Regions from separate parts of the Homo sapiens genome. Here all the other regions are linked to region 3. The links come from fine-mapping of genetic effects on plasma protein levels. Region 3 holds a variant in brackets. A gene starts in each other region. All regions are shown on their forward strands. Region 1 holds the start of HCLS1 (hematopoietic cell-specific Lyn substrate 1). Region 2 holds the start of CTF1 (cardiotrophin 1). Region 3 overlaps COPZ1 (coat protein complex I subunit zeta 1).

What was found. A credible set is the group of variants that fine-mapping cannot tell apart. PIP is the chance, under the fine-mapping model, that this variant and not a neighbour inherited with it causes the effect. Protein levels are from antibody-based Olink assays in UK Biobank. Linkage for the fine-mapping came from a reference panel and not from the study's own genotypes, which makes the PIPs less certain.
Region 1: it holds the start of HCLS1, and the variant in region 3 is the best candidate, but not a certain one, in a credible set for the plasma level of the HCLS1 protein (UK Biobank, PIP 0.67).
Region 2: it holds the start of CTF1, and the variant in region 3 is the best candidate, but not a certain one, in a credible set for the plasma level of the CTF1 protein (UK Biobank, PIP 0.73).

What each region holds. Positions count from the first base shown.
Region 1 is chr3:121,659,677-121,662,437 of GRCh38, forward strand. It overlaps HCLS1 (hematopoietic cell-specific Lyn substrate 1), which reads right to left and starts at 1,227. Exons shown (of 14, transcript NM_005335.6): 1 at 1,144-1,227. RefSeq lists enhancers at 1,070-1,259, 1,450-1,499.
Region 2 is chr16:30,895,617-30,898,377 of GRCh38, forward strand. CTF1 (cardiotrophin 1) reads left to right here and starts at 998. Exons shown (of 3, transcript NM_001330.5): 1 at 998-1,052. The coding sequence starts at 1,028. RefSeq lists enhancers at 1-167, 168-671, 1,535-1,584.
Region 3 is chr12:54,331,301-54,334,061 of GRCh38, forward strand. All of the region lies in intron 1 of COPZ1 (coat protein complex I subunit zeta 1), which reads left to right. Among named protein-coding and RNA genes, the nearest start is that of MIR148B, 4.5 kb to the right of the region's middle. The variant A/G (reference allele first, on the strand shown) is at 1,391.

The DNA of each region.
Region 1 (2,761 bases), not on the chromosome of region 3:
GATGCGGTTGGAGACAGCAAAACATCCTTACTACCTGCATCCTTACTACCCCTCTGCTTCTCATCCCCTGGCTCCTGGGCTGCTGTGCAACAACAAAAGGACTGTCACACAGAAAACTGGAATGGAGAAGTTTCTGAAATAGTCATGAGCAATAAGGAAGCAATGAGGACTGATGGTCCCATCCTCCTTCCTGTGGCTCCTCTGAGGCCTCAGCCTGACTCTCCCATTCACCCATTTTTGAAATAAAGAGTTTCTGAAATAGAGACAATTTATCTAATATCCTTGACCTATTGACCAGAAACCAGAAAGGTAAGAAGTGCTATCTAGAGGTGAGAACCAGAGAGTAATCTGGTGAGGCCTTGTTGCGATGCTGACCTCCTGCATCAAAGTACACAGACTGGGAGTCAGAAGCCCTGGCTGTCACCCCAGCTCTGTGACTAAGCCTCTGAGGGACCATCACAAGGGCATCAACAGAGTAGGTACTCATTTGCCAGGTATCAGACCAGGCGATTAAGAAATACTAACTTTAATAATTTGGCAAATCAGCAATTATCTCTGATTTTCCCAGTGGAAAATAATGAAGGGGTTAACGTAGCTCATCTGTGGTCTCCTTGATTTCTGACATTCTGAGATTCTGTGATCTACGAACACAGAAACTAGCCCCAGCAGAACAATCATGCCTTCTCTTGGGCTCCATCAGCACTTGGTACTCAGTGCTAGTGTACATCAGTGACTACTTCCTGATCTGTTACATTTCCTGTGTGGGTTTGTTTCCCTGAGACCATATGCTCTTCAAGGGCAGACACTGTTTTCGTCTCCTGTGGTCCTCCTCCCAGCTCAGTACCTAGGGGAGACAGGCCTTAGAGTGGGTTGTAGATTGTCAGCAGAAACCAGGCAACACTTTGCTTGATGTTGGTGCTAGATGGCTCCTGAAACACTTGCCTTGGGTTTAAGCCCCTCCCTTTTGTTTCTATCTCCAGATGCTGATTTGCTACAACCACTCACAACCAGGCCTTCTGGCCATAAAAGGATAAAAGCCTACTAGTGGTGACCTTGCCCATCACCAAGGACTAAGAGCCAGGTAGGTTCCTCCTCAACTCTTACTCTGTGTTTCCCAACTGTCCCATGGCTCAGAGTACCCACCTCCACCTGTGCAAGCCTCTGTTCTAAGCGCCCGGCTCCTCGCGTCCACACCGACTCCCTCTCTGGCTGCTGCCACTTCGGAGTGAGAAACTGAGCTGCTGCTTCAGTTCCGTATTCAGGTTTTCGTCATTTCCTGCCACCCCATCCTCACAGCTACTTCCTGAAATTTGAGTCAGTTCCTTCTGCTTTAGACACTTAAATTTTAAAAGGATTAAATGTTTCTGTGCCTGGTCTTTTGCAAGGTTTTGACAATGGGGGTCATAGAGCAGTCATAGAAAATGCTGCTTTGACTCTGAGTTTGTAATCCAGTGAGAGAAACAAACATTCAACCAGAAAACACATTAGAGAATGCTGTAGAACAGCATTGTGTCCTAAATAGGGTGGCAGTTACATTTGAGACAGTAAAGGAATTCAGAGCATTTGGTATTGGGTGTATTCATCAAGAAAGGCTTTATGGGAAAAGTGATTTATATGTGGGTTTTGAAGCATAAGACTTAAAAAGAAACTCACCCCTATATTACCCACAGCACTTAAAAGTGGAGTTTTCATATAGATGTTCAAATAAACGTCGACCAATTGAATGCCAGAAGAGAATAACTCATGAGGGAAAAGGCAAGACATGGAAGGAGAGTTTCCTAGCTTGTTTGGGGCACTGTGGAGTCTGAGCTAACAAACTAAAGATTTGGCTCTAGAGCGTAGGAAGAATTCTGAAAGAACCAGGTGCTGGTCAGCTGATGGAAGAAGGTCTTTGTGGTATCCTGTTTTACTGCGTGTCAAGACTTGCTGCCCCTCCCTTCCCTCTTGAAGTCAGACTTACTCAGGTGACTTGTTTTGGCCAGTGACAGATACCACTTTCTGGCGGAGGCCGTAAGACCACTGCAAGCTTTGCCATGCTTTCACCACTGCCCAAGGCAACCTGCAATTCTCCATATTGGCTCCTCCAGCAGACTGGGTCCCTGAGTGAGAAAGAACACAAGTGGAGCCCCATCCACCATGTGGGGGAATTGGAGTCTTTCACTAAAAAATAGTCCTTTGTTTTGGCTACTGAGAATTTGAGGGTGTCTGTTATTGTATCTGACCTAGCCTTTCCTAATCTTGATTGTGGACTTCTTGATTTGTTCACAACGGTGCATCCTCCAAGGAGTTTAAGCAGGACTGGATGAAACTGGCCCATGATACAGGCACTTTTCTGCATTAGGAATATGAAGCCTCTGTCACTTCCAAATCTAAGGATTCTATGCCTGGGGGAGCTTTATTTATTCCTTCTACTTTATTACCTATTTATCATGGTGGTACCAAAGTTATGATAAGGAAGAGTACGTTTGTACAAGAGAAAAATCACTTGGAATCCTCATGTAGTGTCAAAATACGATTTAGACTAGATGATGTGACACACCATCCAGGTACATAGTTCTCTAGAGAAAATATAGAAATTAATCAGAGATGACACCAAGAAGTCCCATCTTTCCTTAGCAAATGTCACAAGTTCATTACTGATGAGGTAGTGAGGTGTATCACACAGAAAAAGAATGGGCCTTGAAGCCAGACAGACTTGGTTCAATTAAACCACTTATTGTACTTTGAGAAAGTGAGCTATCTTCTCTCAAGCAGCAACTTA
Region 2 (2,761 bases), not on the chromosome of region 3:
TCAATTCTATCTGCTGTGCCCTCTCCAGTTAAACTCTTTCTTCTTTTATTCCAGCAATTGCTCACGGCAATACACACACCCACTCACACGAACACACGCACACACATGCACGCGCACATGCACACACGCGCACACCTGCACACTCACACGCACACAAATCCACTCGCACACACGCATGCTCACACGCACACACGTCCGCATGCACGCACACACGCAGACACACGCAAGCGCACACACACACGGGCCTCCTCGTCTTCATTCACAAACCCCATTAGCTTCTGTTGTCTATGGGCTTCCTCGACAGACCGCGAGCCCCTCGCGGGGGCCAGAAACCAAGTATGGATCATCCCTATGTGCCTTCCTTTCCGTCTACACCAGGTTAATGGGGTTGACGTATGGGTGTGACTTCCTGTCCAGGTCTCTGTAGCTTGTTCTCCTGGGGGTGGGGGGCGGGGTGTGATTGTTACTAGGCCTGCTAAGAAGAGGAGAGCAGTGTATCTGTCTCCCTCCTGGTGGGTGTGACAATGAGATTGGAAGCCATCTAAGATAGGCCAGGAGATGTATGTCTGGACAAACATGCCCCAAGCCTGACGGCCCCCATCGTAGCCTCCCTCGCAAGCCGCGCCCCAGACTAGAGAGAGGGCCTGCGCATTCCTGTCCTGCCAGTCCGGCAGTTCCCTCTCCTGTCTCCTCAGCTTTACACCCAAAGCAGCCGCTGCCTCAGGTCCAAGCCTGAGCCCGCGGCAGAACATTGGGCTGCCTCCCAGGCCCTGACACCCCCAGCCCCGAGGTCCTGTCCACCCGGCAGACAACTTGCCTTCCCCCTCGGGCCCCTTCCCCCACTAGGCCCCACGGACGAGGAGCTGAGCTCAGGGCCAAGGAATCCTGTCTCAAAAGGGGGGGTAGGATGAAATGTTTGGGGTCTGGGCTCTGATTGGCTGCGCCCGGGCCACGCCCCCAGCCCTTTCCCCTTTCTCCCCCCTCGAAAGGGGGGCGTGAAGGGAGCCGGGATCAGCCAGGGGCCAGCATGAGCCGGAGGGAGGGAAGTCTGGGTAAGGGGCTGAGGGACCGGACGCCGGGTCGCTGAGGGGCGCAGGAGTCAGAGGGATTGGGAGCTGGGGGTCTGGGTTTCCGCCACCCCCGGGTCCGGGAGGGGAGCGGCCTTGGCGGGGAAGGGCAGGGCTCCGGTGTCAGGTAACGAGTGAGCGGGTGAGTTGTGAGAAACAGCAGGCGCTAGGGTTTAGAGGAGGCCTGGGGCTGAGGTTTCAGGGACCTGGGCTCAGGGCTTAGATCACCGGTTCGAGTACACCCAGGGGGAGGACTGGGGTCGGGGCTGGGGCAGGACCCCTGCGTCCACTGAGTCTCGGGAAAGAATCAGAGCTGGGGGGCTGAAGGAAGGGGTAGAGTAAGGGAAGGCAGTCTTGGAGTCACAGGAAGTAGTGAGTGACAACAGGAGACGAAAGTCTGGGCTGCTGAGGATCGCGACTGGTGCTGGGAAACTTCGGGGGTGGGGCGGGGGCGGGGCACCGGGTCAGGACTACATTCCCCAGCACGCATCGGGCGCGCGCTGTGCGTTTCGGGAAATGGAGTCCCTCCCGGGGCGCCAGACACTGGCTCTTGCGGACCTTGATTCGCTGACTAGCCAGGCCAGCGCCTTGCATGGATGGGGCATCAGGGAGAGAAATGGAAATGGAAGTCAGTCTCCCTATCTGTAAAATGGGCCTTCAAGGCACATTTTGATATGAAGTTCTGTACTTCGATGATGTTGAAGTCCACTAGCAGTCACTGAGGTAGAAATATGTAAGCCCTGTCTTCAAAGGGCTCTCAGGCTAAGGCAGATACACACAGAAAAGCCGTTAAAAGAGCTACCCTGGAACTCATGCAAATGGCCTTAAGTCAAAGGAAGGAGTTCGTTTATAAAGGAGAAGTGATTCTGGAGGCTTCACTGAGGAGGCAGTACAGTCATGCACTGCATAACAACATTTGGTCAACAGGTGGACCGCACAGACAATGGAGGTCCCATAAGATTCTATGCATTTTTAGCCTGGGCAACATGGCGAAACCCTGTCTCTACAAAAAAATACAAAAATTAACCGGGCATGGTGGCGCATGCCTGTAGTCCCAGCTACACAGGAGACCCAGGCGGGAGGATCGCTTGAGCCCAGGAGGTCGAGGCTGCAGTGAGCCAAGATTGCACCACTGCACCCCATCCTGGGCGAAAGAGCAAGACTCCGTCTCTCTCTCTCTCTCTCTTTCTCTTTTGGGATGGAGTCTTTCTCTGTTGCCAGGCTGGAGTGCAGTGGCCTTGGCTCACTGCAACCTCTGCCTCCTGGGTTCAAGCAATTCTCCTGCCTCAGCCTCCCAAGTAGCTGGGACTACAGGCGTGTGCCACCAAGTCCAGCTAATTTTTTTTTTTTTGTATTTTTAGTAGAGATGAGGTTTCATCATGTTGGCTAGGATGGTATTGATCTCTTGACCTCGTGATCCACCTGCCTCAGCCCTCCAAAGTGCTAGGATTACAGGCGTGAGCCACTGCGCCTGGACAATTTTTTTTTTTTTTTTTGAGACGAAGTCTCGGTCTGTCACCCAGGCTGGAGTGCAGTGACCTGATCTCAGCTCAATGCAACCTCCTCCTCCCAGGTTCAAGCGATTCTCATGCCTCAGGCCCCCTGGTAGCTGGGATTACAGGCACCCACCATCATGCCTGACTAATTTTTGTATTTTTAGTAGAGACAGGGTTTCACCAGATGGTCCCGAACTC
Region 3 (2,761 bases):
CTCCCGAGTAGTTGGGATTACAGGCCCCCACCACCATGCCTGGCTAATTTTTGTATTTTTAGTAGAGACGGGGTTTCGCCATGTTGGCCAAGCTGGCCTCGAACTCCTGACCTTGTGATCCACATGCCTTGGCCTCCCAAAGTGCTGGGATTACAGGTGTGAGCCACTGCGCCCGGCCTATTTTCTCACTCTCAATGCAGATATCCCATCCATAGCCAATTGCCCTGGATAGCTCGGTCAACTAATTTTCTGCAACTCCTTTTCTGTTGTGTGGTTTTAGAGGGAGACTAAAACCAGAGGAGAATAGAGCAATTCTGCCTCGGGGTTGATTTGGGGGCATAAATAGACTGAAAGATAACACAGAGTCTGTCAATTCAGTCTCTCAGAGACTAGCTTTTTGTTTTCAGGAGCAAAAGCAGGGAGATGTGGGGGGGAGTAAAGGGATAAATCATGATACAAATCGTGACCCAGGACTCATCAGGAATGGATCTAGCCCCTTTTGATTTTTTTCCTTTGCTGAGTGTTATTTAAGTGAGGGCTCCTGGATTACCAAACTGAGAAGGCAGAATGTTCTAATGGTGCTCTCAGGCCTCAGGTCTGGAGTATAGTCTGATTTCTCCTTATTCAGTTCATCTCTCTTCCCAGCAGTACTGCTTTGTCCCTCATTTCTGTGATTCTTTCACTTCCATGATAGTTGAAGAATTAGGGACTATGTGACCCCTGGGTAAAAAATCCTCCAGCAAGGCCGGGCGCGGTGGCTCACGCCTGTAATCCAGCACTTTGGGAGGCCGAGGCGGGCGGATCACGAGGTCAGGAGTTTGAGACCAGCCTGACCAACATGGTGAAACCCGTCTCTACCAAAAATACAAAAATTAGCCGGTCATGGTGTCACGCGCCTGTAATCCCAGCTACTCAGGAGGCTGAGGCAGGAGAATGGCGTGAACCCGGGAGGCGGAGGTTGCAGTGAGCCACTGCACTCCAGCTTGGGCGACAGAGTGAGACTCCGTCTCAAAAAAAAAAAATTTTCCAACAGACAGGCTTTCTGAGTTTTGAGAAAGGTCCTGAGACTTTGCATTCCTAAAAAGCTTAGGGTTTGGTTGTCTTTGTCCTGCCCATTTCACAGTCATCAAATTCAGCCATTGAAAGCTGGAGGTGGCTGGGCATGGTAGCTCACGCGTGTAATCCCAGCACTTTGGGAGGCTGAGGCAGGCGGATCACCTGAGGTCAGGAGTTCGAGACCAGCCTTACCAACATGGCAAAGCCCTGTCTACTAAAAACACAAAATTAGCCAGGTGTGGTGGTGGGTGCCTGTAATGCCAGCTATTTGAGAGGCTGAGGCAGGAGAATCGCTTGAACCTGGGAGGTGGAGGTTGCAGTGAGCTGAGATTGC[A/G]CCATTGCACTCCAGCCTGGGCAACAAGAATGAAACTCAGTCTTAAAAAAAAAAAGGGAAAAAAAAAAAGAAAGCTGGAGGGAGCGTGGTTGCTGACCTTTATTCCCCCTGCTGGCTGTTAGTTTTCTCAATCATATTTATTAATTTATGAAGGCCACACACACATTTATTGAATTTATCCAGCATTACTGGATGCCAGGTAGAGTAGAGGGGGTGGTTTACAAAAGTATCACTCATTTCCCCTCTTTTTCCTGCCCCCTCCACACCATCTTATTATCTCCAGAGAGAATCTCATTTAATTCTAAACTCGGCTCTGTGAACTCTTTGAAATCATAAAAAAATTATTTTTATTTATATATATATTTTTTGAGACAGAGTCTTGCTCTGTCATCCAGGCTGGAGTGCAGTGGTGCGATGATCTTGGCTCACTGCAATCTCCATCTCCGGGGTTTAAGCAATTCTCATGCCTCAGCCTCCTGAATAGCTGGGATTACAGGCATGCACCACCATGCCCAGCTAATTTTTTTGTATTTTTAGTAGAGACAGGGTTTCGCCATGTTGCCCAGGCTGGCCTCAAACTCCTGAGCTCAAGCTATTTGTCCCCACATTGGCCTCCCAAAGTGCTGGTATTACAGGTAGGAACCAGCATGCCTAGCCATGAAATCATAAAAAAATTTGTGAATGTATTTTGCTGGGAATAAGGTCCATAGATGTAATTGGTTTATCAAAGGGGTCTGCTGTAACTCAAAAAAGGCATTAACCTTAACTGATCTAGGTCAAGCCTCTCATTTCTCTGATGAAGAAGCTGAATCTCAGAGAAAGGGAAAATTTGAGTTAATGGCTGATCCCCATTATAGTACAAGTATTGTAGCCAGGCATGGTGGTGCATGCCTGTAGTCCTAGCTATTTGGAAGGCTGAGGCAGGACTCCTTGAGCCCAGGAGTTCAGGTCCAGCCTGGGCAACATAGCAAGACCCTGTCTCTATTTAAGAGATGGATTGTAGGAGTTTAGAGACATTTTCTCCTGTAATATCAAAACTCTTGTTGACTGTGCTTTACATGTTTTGGGTCTGTGTCAGATAGGAAGATTGTAGGTGTCTCTTCCTGCCGTCAGTTCTTCCCGAGTCATGTGTTGAGTTTTTTCTTTATAACCAATATTTGGTCTCATGTCAGCTGGGTAGTGTTCTGTGGTACCAGTGGCTCCCACTCTTTCCTGAGCTGTGCTTTTTGAATCTAATCTTGTGTGTATACAGAAATAATTAGCAGGGTGTGGTGGCATGTACCTGTAGTCAGCTACTTGGGAGGCTGAACGGGGAGGATCGCTTGAGCCTGGGAGGTTGAGGCTGCAGTGAGCTGTGATGGCACCACTGCA